2 separate regions of the Homo sapiens genome follow, and region 1 is linked to region 2. The links come from fine-mapping of genetic effects on gene expression. Tissue or cell type: unexposed skin. Region 2 holds a variant in brackets; the other region holds the start of a gene. All regions are shown on one strand. Distances are from middle to middle.

Region 1 (2,749 bases), 160 kb after region 2:
TCTCACCTACAAAAACAGGAGATAGTATTACTTAATCTCTAAGGTACTTTCTAGCGTGAAGAAAGTTTAAGCCTGCCCATTAAGCCAAGATTTCCAAAGCACCTTTAAACACTTGTGGCTACTATCACGTATTCTGTGACCAGCTCAACACTCTACTATACAGTCACCAGTGCCACCTGCTGGTCACAGCCATTTTAATGTTTCTGGGAAAAGATTCCCTAACAACAAAAATAGGAGCTGCGATAAGCAGCTGTGCATTTGATGTGCATATCTCAGTTAATTCTCTCAGTGGTCTTATCAGGTAAGTACTATGATTATCCCCATTTTCTAGAGATGACAACTGGCTAGGCCGGGATGTGAACCCCCATCAGCATCAAGAGCCCGTATTTCTAACCACTGTACTAGTCGCAAGTAAACCCTAGAAAGTGTTTTAATCGCTGACAGTCTAGGAACTGGGAAAATGGGCTCTTAATTCACATTGTTAAGAGGCATCTATTCACAAAAAAAGGGCCCCCGCTGGGGTCAGATTGGCCATGGGGGCGTGAGGGGGAGATGACCAATGAAATGCTCGACAGACCTGCCGTGCAGGAGGGCACCAGCTACCCTTGGCAGTCCAGTCCCTAGGGAGGACGGTCAGCACAGCCTCTTTCCCGCTGTCGCCGAAGCGCGGCGCGCCAGGGTCAGCAATGACAGACCTTCCCGCCCAGCCCAAACGCAGCGACACCGGACGGCCTCGGCTGGGCCAGGTCAGGACCAAGGCGGATGGGAAGGCGCAAGGCAGCAGTGAACAGGGAGACCCTCATCCGGCTGGGGGTTCCCGTGCGGCAGGGACAGTAGAGCCGGATCCAATTCAAGGGTAGACGTAGTGGAGGCCCCCGAGGCCCGGACCCGCGGGCAGGGCAGGCGCGGGCCGGGGGCTCCGCAGCAAGCGGGCTCCCCTCCGCGCTCTGCCGAGAAAGGAGCAGTGCTCCGGGTCCCCAGCGCAATCTCTGCTACCAGGGACCCCAGACCGGCGGGGCGAACCAACCTGTGCGGAAGACCCCGGACAAGGGTCAGGCGCGGCGGCCGGAGCCGCTCCTCTGGCAGGGCTCTCGCGCGGAGCCGGGCGCTGTGGACGGCGGCTGCGGAGGACCAAAGCGGCGCGGACCCCGGCAGGGCACCGTCGGAAACACGCTCCGCGGGCGCCGAGCCCGAGACACTGACAGACCCACGGAGAACGTTTCCAAACAGGATTATAGCTTTTAACCGGGCCTCCCTCACCTACCCTGTGATTGCGCAGCGGGTCAGATCTGGACCAGTAAGTTCTGGTCTATTCAGTTTGAGCCAGGCTCTAGGGCCAGTCTCTGAAAAGGGAAAATACTAACTCATTATCTATGTATTGAAGCGGGAGAAGACCCGGCCCTGGCCCCAGGAGCCCTCAGTGGAATCCATTTAGTTGAAAACGTAAAAAGCAATCGAGGCTGTAAATGGCAGTGAGTGTTGCACTGCAGCCCAGCAGAAACTGGTGCCCAAAACTTGGTTGAATTAAGGGCTATAAGTGTATGGAGGGTGAGACTACAGGGCCAGGGGCTTCCTGAAATATTTGAGGAACATAGGAGGGGTGTTATCCTCTGGAGCTGCAAGAACACAGGTGATATTCCAGCCGATAATGTATTTTTTATGTTGAAGAAATTGTGCCACTTCCAAATAAAAATGTTCTGTAGACAGGTCGGGTGCAGTGGCTCACACCTGTAATCCCAGCACTTTGGGAGGCCAAGGTGGGCATATCACCAAAGGTCAGGAGTTCGAGACCAGCCTGGCCAACATGGTGAAACTCCGTCGCTACCAAAAATATAAAAATTAGCCGGGCATGGTGGTGCAGGCCTGTAGTCCCAGCTACTCACGAGGCTGAGGCATGAGAATAGCTTGAACCCGGGAGGTGGAGGTTGCAGTGAGCTGAGATCACGCCACTGCACTCCAGCCTGGGTGACAGAGACTCCATCTCAAAAAAAAAAAAAAAATTCTGTAGGCAGCTTTAAATCTTAGAAACTTATGCTTAACGCATGAATTCTCTGTATTCCTGCCTGATACACCTCCAAAGATGGGGGGCCAGTTATCATGATGGAGCCCAACTCATTGTGACACGACTCCAGTTCCCTTCCATGTGGATCTGGCAATTTTGAAGTTAGACAGAAGGTAATTCAGTGCATTATCTGTGCCTAGCCCACGCTTCCTACCTACTAAGTACTCAAGTATTTCCTGAACTTCTTAGCTGGCACAACAGGGAATGAAGCCTGAGGAAAAGTAAACAGGGTTAAAAACTAAACCTGAGAGAAGGAGGCAGAAGAGTTACTGATGGAATACTCCTAAAGAAATTTGAACCAGAAGCTTAAGTCACAGTTTCGGGTAGGACATGATTAAGCCAAATTAAAAGTGCACTTTCTCAACTCACACCTCTTAAGAATTCTTGCTGGGAGCAGTGGCTCATGCCTGTAATCCTAGCACTTTGGGAGGCTGAGGCGGGCAGATCACTCGAGGTCAGGAGTTCAAGACCAGCCTGACCAATATGGTGAAACTACATCTCTACCAAAAAATACCGAAAAAATTGGCTGGGCGTGGTGGCATGTGCCTGTAATCCCAGCTACTCGGGAGGCTGAGGCATGAGAATCACTTGAACCTGGGAGGCAGAGGTTGCAGTGAGCTGAGATCATGCCACTGCACTCCAGCCTGGGTGACAGAGTGAGACCATGTCTCAAAAAAAAAAAAAAAA
Region 2 (2,500 bases):
CTCACTGCAGCTATGACCTCCTGGGCTCAAGCGATCCTCGGGGTTCAGCCTCCCAAGTAACTGGGATTACAGGTGCATGCCACCATGCTTGGCTAATTTTTCTATTTTTTTGTAGAGACATGGTTTTGCCATGTTGCACAGGCTGGTCTCGAACTCCTGAGCTCAAGTGATCTTCCTGCCTTGGCCTCCCAAAGTGCTGGAATTATAATAGCCGTGAGCCACTGCGCCTGGCCTACTATGTTTATTAAAAGGATTTATTGCCTGTAATCCCAGCACTTTGGGAGGCCGAGGCGGGTGGATCATGAGGTCAGGAGATCGAGACCATCCTGGCTAACAAGGTGAAACCCCGTCTCTACTAAAAATACAAAAAAATTAGCCAGGCGCAGTGGCGGGCGCCTGTAGTCCCAGCTACTTGGGAGGCTGAGGCAGGAGAATGGCGTGAACCCGGGAAGCGGAGCTTGCAGTGAGCCGAGATTCCGCCACTGCAGTCCGCAGTCCGGCCTGGGCGACAGAGCGAGACTCCGTCTCAAAAAAAAAAAAAAAAAAAGATTTATTTGTCTAGGCGTGGTGGCTCACACCTGTAATCCCAGCACTTTGGGAAGCCAAAGTGGGTGGTTCACTTGAGGTCAGGAGTTAGAGATCAGCCAGGCCAATATGGTGAACCTCTGTCTCTACTTAAAAAAAAAAAAAAAAAAAAGTACAAAAAACTTAGCCAGGCATGGTGGCACGTGCCTGTAGTCCCAGCTACTCAGGAGGCTGAGGCAGAAGAATCGCTTGAACCCGGGAGGCAGAGGTTGCAATGAGCCGAGATTGTGCCACTGCACTCCAGCCTGGGTGACAGAGACTCCATCTCAAAAATATATAATAAAAATAAAAGCATTTTTTTTCTCTCTTTTTAACTTTCACATATCTCTTTTCAGGCACCTTCTTACCATTGTGCCTATTCTTACTTTAACCCATGATTAAAATAAATCATATACACTGTATAAATCTGAGATTATCATAGGAATGGAGTTTCTGGCATGAGATGTTTCCTGTATCGCAAATGGATCTATAATGACCTTCCCCACCTCCAGCCTCTGGGTGGCCATGAGTTCAAAGTGGCTGCCAATATCTGA[C/T]CTGTTGTTGTTATCATTCACTCCTCCTTGCCTGCTGCTTTCCTCCCTTATCACCTCACCCTTTGTTCTCCTCCAGCTCTGTTTCCTGCCACCCTAATCTTTTTGTTTCTTGAATTACCTCCCCCACTGTCACATGCTCATCTTCTCTGCCAAATTAACCTTCTCCCTTGAGCCTTTCTTGGGCTGTCTCTTGCTGCCCCAGTTGCAAAGTCCTGTCTTCTTTCTACCCGTTGACCCTCTTCTTTTTTTTTCCTCCCTTGTCTCTGTGTGCATCTGATTCCATTTTAAATCTGGTAACCAAAGGCCTGGCTAGTGCTTACACACAGCCCAGCTGCAAAACCATTAATGGACATTAATAATCCTCAGTACCTTTATTCCTGGCATTCTACCCCCCTCCTCCCCAGTTCACACTGCAGATCATCAGGTGTCACAGAGAGAGGACATACCTTGAAATGCCCTAGATGATGTCATTTACTTTGCAGGACTTCCTTGCCTTGCTTCTGATTAATGTCATGACTGGTCTGTCTGAGGGTACTGTTATCTACAAAGAGCCAAATATTAGCTCTTAGTAGCTATTCTTTATCCATGCCTGATTAGGGTCAGTATTATTTTTGGCTGTGGTTCAGAAAGAAGAGTCCTGCCAAGCGTTGGCAAACTCTCTATCTGTCGAGTTTCCAAAGCTTTACACGTTAGAGAAATTGCTGTGAATCCAGAATTTGTTTGTTTTCCTCCCTCCAGCAAAGTGAAATGTTCATCCCAAGAGTCCTCAAAATCTCAGAGGTTACAGGGTATTTTTCTTCCTCAGAGAGCTTCTGTTTTATCAGCACCTCCCCCACACCAGGGTCAAAGCTCAAAAAAGTTGGAGCAGCCCCTGGGAACTGCAGTGGCTGAGGACATTCCAGCCCCTGGGCTGGCCTTTCTTCTGATCTTTGGCTGCAGGGCCCACTCTTTTGGAACCTCCCACCCCTAGAGGTGGTTCCAGTGTGGTGGGGAAAGGTGTGCTTCTTTACTCATTTTTTTAAGAGTCATAGCCAGAGTGCTTCATTCTGCAAGGACGTGCACATGCACATGCACACAGAGCCTTGAGGGCAGGGCCAAGAGTGAATTTGGAATTTTCCAACCTGATACCCATTCCCAAAAGTAGGAGCTTCTCTCTAGTCATTTTATCCTCTGAGAAACTGTCAGTTCTCCTCCCACAAGGCTCCCAGACAGCCACGGGTGACCAGGGTCTCCAATCACTCCTTAAGATGCCTTTGACTGGCTGGGCGCAGTGACTCATGACTGTAATCCTAGCACTTTGGGTGGTCAACGTGGGAGGGTTGCTTGCAACATGGCAAGACCCCGTCTCTACAAAAAAAGTAAAATAATAAAAGTAAAGATGC

The links. PIP is the estimated chance that this variant, and not a neighbour inherited with it, causes the effect.
Region 1: it holds the start of SEC31B, and the variant in region 2 is fine-mapped to the expression of SEC31B in unexposed skin (GTEx, PIP 0.95).

Annotation. Positions count from the first base shown.
Region 1 is chr10:100,518,755-100,521,503 of GRCh38, forward strand. SEC31B (SEC31 homolog B, COPII component) reads right to left here and starts at 1,107. Exons shown (of 26, transcript NM_015490.4): 1 at 1,028-1,107.
Region 2 is chr10:100,358,071-100,360,570 of GRCh38, forward strand. All of the region lies in intron 5 of SCD (stearoyl-CoA desaturase), which reads left to right. Among named protein-coding and RNA genes, the nearest start is that of SCD, 12 kb to the left of the region's middle. The variant C/T (reference allele first, on the strand shown) is at 1,119.